Linked DNA regions of Homo sapiens: region 2 is linked to region 1. The links come from fine-mapping of genetic effects on gene expression. A gene starts in region 1. The other region holds a variant in brackets. All regions are shown on one strand. Distances are from middle to middle.

Evidence for each region. PIP is the estimated chance that this variant, and not a neighbour inherited with it, causes the effect. A credible set is the group of variants that fine-mapping cannot tell apart.
Region 2: its variant is the best candidate, but not a certain one, in a credible set for the expression of CCL3-AS1 in whole blood (TOPMed, PIP 0.69).

The regions. Positions count from the first base shown.
Region 1 is chr17:36,072,615-36,077,008 of GRCh38, reverse strand. It overlaps CCL3-AS1 (CCL3 antisense RNA 1), which reads right to left and starts at 2,396. Exons shown (of 3, transcript NR_186417.1): 1 at 2,161-2,396; 2 at 207-299.
Region 2 is chr17:36,104,635-36,109,028 of GRCh38, reverse strand. It overlaps CCL4 (C-C motif chemokine ligand 4), which reads right to left. Exons shown (of 3, transcript NM_002984.4): 2 at 4,387-4,394; 3 at 3,415-3,804. The coding sequence ends at 3,717. Among named protein-coding and RNA genes, the nearest start is that of CCL4, 3.0 kb to the right of the region's middle. The variant G/A (reference allele first, on the strand shown) is at 2,458.

The DNA of each region.
Region 1 (4,394 bases):
CTTAACTAACATTTCTACTTCTTCCTTTCTCCTCGCCCTTCACCAGAGCAAAACAGGCTCTGGTAGTTGGAGTGTGATGAAGCTTTAGTTTGGTTCTGAGATACCCTCTCTCCTTCTCTTTTTAACTCCTCTGGCATGTTGGAAAGAGGGGTTGTCTGTGTGGGGTAATATAAAGAGAAAATTTTGCTGGTTGTGGTGGTTTGTACCTGTAATCCCAGTGCTTTGGGAGGCCAGGGCCAGAGGAACACTTGAGGCCAGGAGTTGGCGACCAGCCTGGGCAACACAGTGAGATCCTGTCTCTACAAAAAAAAAAAAAATTTAATTAGCAGGCATTGTAGTGTGCAGCTATAGTCCTAGCTACTCAGGAGGCTGAGGCAGGAGGATCGCTTGAGCCCAGAAGTTCTAGTCTGCAGTGAGCTGTGATCACACCACTGTACTCCAGCCTGGGTGACAGAGCAAGACCCTGTCTCTAAAAGAATTTTTTTTAATTTAAATGTTTAAAAGAGAGAGGGGAAAGAATTCTTTTAACTGCCTACAGATGTAGTCCCTGCCCCCACTGCTAGGTTATCCCTGCATCTTTTAAAAAAATATTGAAGTTATGGGCAATGCATGTATATTTCCCTCGGATAGATGGGCATTCCTGAGGGTCCTCTCTCTGCATAGTTTCTTAGGTGAGAGATCCCACCCTTGCCCAACATCTTTCACCTCTCTCTTCTGCTCACACCACTGGCAGCATACCCTGGGCCTTTGCTAGCCTGGAAGACACCATTGAGCATGTTACAAAAAAGCACCATGGAGCACACCTAGCCCTGTGTGAGTGCAAGACCTTACAGGTGATGGGCAGACTGGCTTTCAGCACCCTCTTGCCCACACATCCAGGGGCCTTTGTAGACAGCGGCCCTGAGACCACCCCATCAGCTACTGCTGTTAAGATCCTTGTAAGCTAAGCAGTGGATCTCCTATTGGTAGGATGAGCACTTTAAGACTCAAAGGGGTTACTATTAATAACTATGCTGGCACAACTGGCATAAACTGGGTCATTTCCCAGACAAAATGGGACATGTGATTCCCCCAACCTTTGCGGAGTGTCACTGGGAGGATGGCTCGAGCCCAGCTCCCTTCCACAGGATCACTCGGCCAATGGAAAGCTCATTCCATGTGGTGGGAGAGCAGCCTCCAGCAATCCTTTTCCCTGCTTTGGTTCCTATCTTCTGTTTTCTTCTCCCCTGCTCATTTTGGCTCAGGCAAATCATGAGGTTCACCATGTAAGCTGACATCCAACTGGAAAATGAGTTGCCTTGTTTGCAGGTACTTCCAGTTTGTACAAGTTACCCTCTGGAGACCCCTTCACTGGGCTTCAAGAGCAGTTAGAAGTAAAGACCTCTCCTTCACAAAGGTGGAACCCACTAGGCTGGCCACTTTCTTTCCTTTTCCTATGTCTACAATGCCCTGGAAGGATTGTCTGGCCCCAGTTGTTAGTGACTTAGTTTAGAATATAAAGTCTATAATGAAAACTTAGTCTCAGATTTGGGAACTAGCCATCATTTGTGGGGCAACAGGGTATATCCCGATCAAAATCTTTTTACAAAACCGGTAAAATAATTCAGGAAAGACCAGGCACAGTGGCTCACGCCTGTAATCCCAGCACTTTGGGAGGCCAAGGCGGGCAGATCACCTGAGATCAGGAGTTCGAGACCAGCCTGGCCAACATGGTGAAACCCCATCTCTACTAAAAATACAAAAATTAGCTGGGCGTGGTGGTGCGTGCCTGTAATCCCAGCTACTCAGGAGGCTGAGGCACAAGAATCACTTGAACCCAGGAGGCAGAGGTGGCAGTGAGCTGCGATCATGCCATTGCACTCCAGCCTGGGCGACAAGAACAAAAACTGTCTCAAAAAATAATAATAATAACAATAATAATTATTATTATACAGGAAAATACAGAATGGCAAAGGGGTATATTATTACTGCATTATTAATGTAAAAATTGAGTATAGTGTTGAATAAAGTGAGAAAATCCCTAAGACAACTGGCATATAACAGGAGAGTCTGAATTGAACCCCCAATTTGGGAAGAACATGCTTGATGTGATGTAATCACAGGCAGGGGATTGGTCATCTTCACATATAAAGACAGAATTAATATGAGAAAGTTACATACATTTGGTAGATACTAGTTGGGTTCCAAGGTCTTTCTCTCTTTCTTTCTCTTTTATCCTTACATGATTCTTCGGAAAAGCAACCCCTCTGGTAGTCTGTGTGGTTTTCAGCCCATCAACATTGCTTGTTATAGACATTGATCAGCTGAAACAAATCAGTAAATCCACTTCTCTGGCCACAAAGATGAATTAAGATACAGGTTGGCAAACTTGCTCTGTAAAGGACCAAATGGAAACTACTTCAGGTTTTGTGGGTCATACAGTGTCTTTCACAACTACTCAGCTCTGCTTTGTCGTATGAAAATATGATTCATTCCAGGTAAGGAGTCCTTGCTAGACTGTGGGCTGTAAACAATACAGAAACAAATAAACCCAACTGCATTCCAATAAAACTTTTTTATGGACACTAAAACTCCAATTTCATACAATTTTCATATTTCTCAAAATAATCTTCTTTTGGATGTTTTCAATGACTTAAAATGTAAAAACATCTTAGCTCGCAGGCCATACAAAAACAGGTAGTAGGTCAAATTGGGCCCAATGGCCATAGTTTGCTGGCCCCTGGGTTAAGAGATGGGCTCTTAATCCAAGCCAGCCAGACCAATAAAAGTGGAACTCAGGCTCTTGGCTCAAAATACGAGGATACAGACATTGTCTTCCCAATTTGCTCTGGAAGTTTCTGGAAGCTATTCTGCCAATAGAGTAACTAGGATGAATATAGTAACTTCTTTCTAGGATGAAGCTCTCAAATGCAGGGAGATCAGAAATTCAGAAAGACATGTATAGTCCATAGCGAAACAAGGACCACTGAATCAAGTTTTGCCTGAAACTAATTCTATTTCTTGAAGCTTCAGTTATGTGAACTAATAAGTTCCCTTTATCATTTAAGCCAGATTGAGTTATTTTTCTGACACTGTGACTTAAACCATCCCTAACTAACATAGACTGCAATGTTGTAAGTATGGGTCCCCAAACGTGGAACTGGCTGAAGGCAGTAGCTAAGGTCAAAGTCAGTGGGGATACCTCTAGTTACCAAAATTGCCGGTTACCCCCATGGCCTGTTATATATTCTAAGTCCATCTTCGAGCCAAAGTTTTATCAAAAACGAAAATTCAGGGTATTGGAGACTATTTCTTGCATCAGTCTTAGTAAGGCCCACTAAGAAAGAAATTAACTTACTTTGAAACTGATTCTTCTGATAGCAGAGAAGGGGAAAAAAAGTAGTTTTTTAAAGAAATGTACTTTCTGCTTGCTGCCTGAAAACCAAGCTAATTAAGAATCCTGTGATCTGGAGCTTGCAGGACTAGAAGAGCAGAATTTTCCAGTCCAAGCTAATGTTAATATAAGCAAAAATGAGGAGGTGAGAGATTAGGCAGGACAGGAAAGCAGGTCCCGAAGCAGCCAAATCCACCTCCTTCTCAGATCCCACATTGTAAATATTTATCTTGATGATAAAATGAATGTATTAGTCAGTTATCCAGAAAAACAGAAACAGTAGGCTATTTCTCTCTATAGATATAGATTGGATACCAATGTTGATATAGATATAAATACCGAGATATTTATTAGGGGAATTGGCTCCCACAATTACGGAAGCCAAGAAGTCCTGCCATCTGCAAGCTGGAGAACCAGGAAAGCCAGTGGTGTGATTTGGTCTGAAGGCCTGAGAACCAGGGCAGCCAAAGTTGTCAGTCCTGGTCCAAGTTCACAGACCTGAGAAGGGGTCAAGAAGGGTAGGTGATGGTACAAGTCCCTGTCTGAGTCTGAAGGCTCAAGAATCGGAAGCGTGGATGTCAGAGGGCAGGAGAAGATGGATGTCCCAGCTCAAACGCAGACAGCAAAGTCACCCTTCCTCAGCCTTTTTGTTCTATTTGGGACCTCAGTGAATTGGATGATGCCTGCCTGCATTGGTGAGGGCAGATCTTCTTTAGTCTTCTGATGCTAATCTCTTCTGGAACACCACACAGACACACTCAGAAATGATGTTTATCAGCTACCTGGGTATCCCTTAGCTTAGTCCAGTTGACGCGTAACATTAACCATCACAATGAACAGCTGTGCTCTTTGTGAAGGTGCAGCTGTATTCATCAGAGGCAGGGAGCTAAAGACGCTGACCTTCGCACTTGTTTCACCAGCAGGGGGCAATGTGGAGTCAATACAATGGGGGAGCCGGTGGGCGGCGGAAGGGATGACCACAGAGCTCCCAGTGCTGTGCTGGAAGAGACGTGTTAAAAAC
Region 2 (4,394 bases), 32 kb before region 1:
AACCCAAGAGAGAAGGAGTTTAGAAGGGAGAACAGGTAGAGATAAGTGGGAAAGAGAGGGCGCCAAGACCCTCAAGTCTGTAAAGGGTGAATGCAGACTGCAGTACAGGACTGCCACCTGGTCTCTGGTCTCAGCCTCGAGGAAGAGCTGTGGCTATGTCACCATCCTCAGCTCATCTTGCTCCCTTGATCCCTGCCTCTGCTTGCTCGGCTCCTGGCCTCCTTGGAGGAAAATGCCTGTGTCAATGGGAGCATGATGGAGGGTTCCAGGTTGAGGTGGGATAGGGGGATGAGGACATGTTTGCATGAACATGTCCTAAAGGAACATGTACATAAGGAAATGGACTCCCATCTGGAGAGTGAGCTGGGGGAGGTGGGCACTGCAAGGAGTAGGAAAACAGGCCGGATGCCTAGAAGTTGCTCCATAATCCATAGTTCCTTTCGAGTGTCCTGCTTCATCTGTTCTGGCTTCTGTCCCCACCCGGAAACCTGGAGAAACCTCAAATGGAACGTCAAGTAAGCAGATTCCAGCTCTCTGGGCCCAGGGTGAGAAAAGGAAGTTGTATGAAAAGAGGAGAAAGGAAAAAAACAGTCTCATATTGTGCAACAGGTGAAGTCCCACATTGCCCCACTTCGAGGATTCCATTCTGCTGTTTGTAATTGCTGGTGAAGCATTTCTTCATGAGGCTGCCCAGGCCTCCTGCAGCCTTCCCTGGTGGTCTTGCCTCTGTGGAGCTGAGCTCCTCCCTTTCCATTAGCTGAGGGGCAGGGAGGATTGGGAAAGGGACTCCATCGTGAGGGAGAAGACCCAGATTCTGGCCCTGACCTTGCCTGCTCAACAATGAACCAGAGACAGGTCATGGCTCTGCTCTGGGCTGCATCTGACAGATGAGAGGATGGATTCTTTCCCGGACAGGAATCCAGGACCCCTCAGAGCACCCTAGATGTCTCAAGAAGAGGCATGCTTCCTAAGGGTCTTGGACCCTGGATCAAGCCTCAGCCCCAGAACTCAGTTGCTGAAGCAGATCTCCTCTTGGGATGCCTCTCCTCATTATAGTTCATCTCCTTGAGGTGTGTCCCTCTCACCCTGGGTTCCTCCTGCAGGGAGGTTTGGCTCACCCTCTAGAATGCTCCCTTTCCTGCCACACTGAGCTATTGGGGGCCGCTATCAGTGACGCGTCAGTTGGTGGTTGTATTTGTTCCTATTGCTGCTGTAAAAAATTACCACACACTTAACATCTTATAACCACATATTTATTCTCTTAAAGTTCTGGAGGTGAGAAGTCTGAAATTAGTTTCACTAAGCCACACTCCCTTTGGAGGCTCTAGGGGAGGAAAAATTTCCTTGCCATTTGCAGCTTCTAGAGCTGCATCCTAACACTTCTTGGCTCCTGGCCTCTTCCTCCATCTTCCAAGCCAGCAGCATAGCATCTTGCTTCTGTTGTCACATTGCTATCTTCTCCTCTATTACCAAATTCTTCTCTTCCTCCCCCTTATAAGGACACTTACAACTGCATTTAGGGCCTGACCAAATAATTCAAGGTAATCACTCATCTCAAGATTCTTAACTTGATCATATCTCCAAAGTCCATTTTGCTATAAAAGTGACATTCACAGGTTCTGAGGAATAGGATGTGTGCACCTCGGGGGCCATTATTCAGCTACCGTAGTGATCTATACCTTGTCTCTGGCCTGGAGTCATCCATTCTCTCTCCCATCCCGTCGCCTCAGAATAGAATTGCATATCTTTCTCAAAATCCACACTCTAATCTTACAGGCCATCCCAACTCCCCTTCCCTTCACTTTCTTTAGGCTCTGAGAACATTCTAGGAGACTGCTCTCCAACAGAACTTTCTGCAATGATGGACAGAAAGCCCGTAATCCGTGCTGTCTAACATGGGAGCTAGCCACATGGAGCTACTGAGCACTTGAAATGTGACTAGTGTGACTCAGGAACTGAATTTTAAATTTTATTTCATTTTAATTAAATGTAATGAAAACGTAAATAGCCACTTTGGCCAGTGGCTAACATATTAGACAGCTCAGATCTAGGCAAATGAAAGCAGAAACTATGGCCAGGCACATTCTTTGCTGCTAGCCTCTTCCTACACCTGTTTTGGATCAGCTCTGCCCCCTAACCTCCTTCTCTCAGTCCCCGCAGAATCTGAAAGAAGTTTCCACTGGGGCTCTGGAATGATGAGGGTGACTAAGGGCAGGACAAGGAAGGGAATTGTGTCTGTTGACCCCAGAGAAGTGCAGGGCCCCAATTCTGCTTTTGCATAGGACTAAGAACACTCAAATGATTTTCAAGATAGTCTCCGCCTTGTTCTTACTCAACCGGTCTCCCTTTTGAGGACCACAGAGATGCGTCACTAGGGAAGGTGTGCAGGAAAGGGCCCGAGCCTGGGAGCTGGCATTGGCCAGGCTCCTGCTCTGCTATGCACTCGCTGAGTGGCAC[G/A]TGGCAAGTTACTTCCCAGGCCTTGGCCCTCAGTTTCCATAAAATGAGAGGGTTGGACCAGATGGTCTAAACTTTCCTTTTAGCTTTAGTAGACTACGAGTCTGTGTCCCATGGATCAGGCTTTATTGTGCATGTAATTCTACTTCAGAGTTGTGTTGTGTCTGACCCATGGAATAGGCAGTTCTGATTGAAGGATAATTAAGTAGAAGTGGCTTTAGGTTACTCCTGCAACACTTCCAAACAAAACCTCCATCCTGCTGTCCTCATGACAACACTTCACAGTAGATTGGGATTTAGAGTGCTGATCTGTCAACTAACTAATCTAATCCTCATGATGATCCTGACAATTGCTAGGTCCATTTTAAGTGAAAAGGCTGAAGCTCAGAGAGGGAAGGAGAGAAACTTCCAGGTGCCTGGTCCTATGATGGGTGCTTTATACATCACCTTATAACAGCCCTTCGAAGTGGTTAATATTATCCCCATTTCACACTTGTGAACACCGAGGTCTAATAAGGCAAGATGACTTTCCCAATGTTATAATAATAATAAGATGATGAAGTCACTCTTCTCACTCTTCTTCCGCCTTTGCTGTGCTGCTTCCCCTCTTTACAACTCCCCCCACAAGATGTTGAAATGATAACCTCCTTTTCTGGGGCATTCTTTCATGACACTCCCCAAGCAGGCCTACAAGCTTCAGCAAGTCACTTCACCTCTCTGTGCCTCTGTTTCCTTAACTGTGAAACTCGGTGCAACAGTCCCTAGTTCATAAGGGTGTTAAAACCCTTGTTGAAAGTACGCAGTGAGATCGTGTATTAAGAGTGTTCAGCCCAGAGCTCATATTAAGGACTCAGCAATTGCTCATTCTTACTGTTTTGGGAAACTGTAGTTTGTCCCTCCCAATGGTACCAGGCAATTCCTTTTACCCCCAAATCAAATTAAAATCACAAAGAAACTGTCTGCATTTTATTTTAAAGTTTTATTATGAAAACACACAGAATCAAATGTGTTATCCATGTATTTGCAACAGCAGAGAAACAGTGACAGTGGACCATCCCCATAGGGGACACTTATCCTTTGGCTAAACTAATATAAATAATGGAAATGACACCTAATACAATAACACGGCACATAAAAAAGATTAAATTAAGAGAAGGGACAGGAACTGCGGAGAGGAGTCCTGAGTATGGAGGAGATGTGTCTCATGGAGAAGCATCCGGGCTCAGGTGACCTTCCCTGAAGACTTCCTGTCTCTGAGCAGCTCAGTTCAGTTCCAGGTCATACACGTACTCCTGGACCCAGGATTCACTGGGATCAGCACAGACTTGCTTGCTTCTTTTGGTTTGGAATCTGTAGAACAAGGAGCGGACAGATTAGAATCTCATGAGACCTTTGAGGTCATCTGGCTTTATCCTTTGCATCTTCCTCTGCCTGACCATGGTCCATGTGGGGCAGCTCTGGTGGATGGGATCCTTCCTGGAGCAGCACTGGAAGCAGACTCCCTGTAACTTCCACCCACTGGATTTAGCTGTGGGCCCCAGGAGTTGCCCAGATTAGGAACCAAGGGGCATTGCAATCAATATGAATAGATCTCCCCATTCCCTGCCAGCCTGGCAGTGACTTTTCCACATGTCTTTCTAGCACGGTTTAAGGAATCGGTCCATATCTCATGGGACCTGTCTGCCTTCCCCTGCTTCCCTGTCCTCTGAATAACTTCCTCCCCAGCAACCCCCTTCTCTCTCGGCTCCCACTCTGCCGCCTTCAGCACTTGAAAAGTGAGTTCATGACCTGTGTCCTCACTGCTCTCAGGGAAGGCTTCAGCCCTGGGAGCTGCCTCCCCAATGCTCAATCACCCCCTCCCCAAAACAGGCCCTCTTTTAAAATCCAGCCCTCACCCTTGCCTCCCAGGGCAGCCCAGGGGTTGATACTCACACCACAGC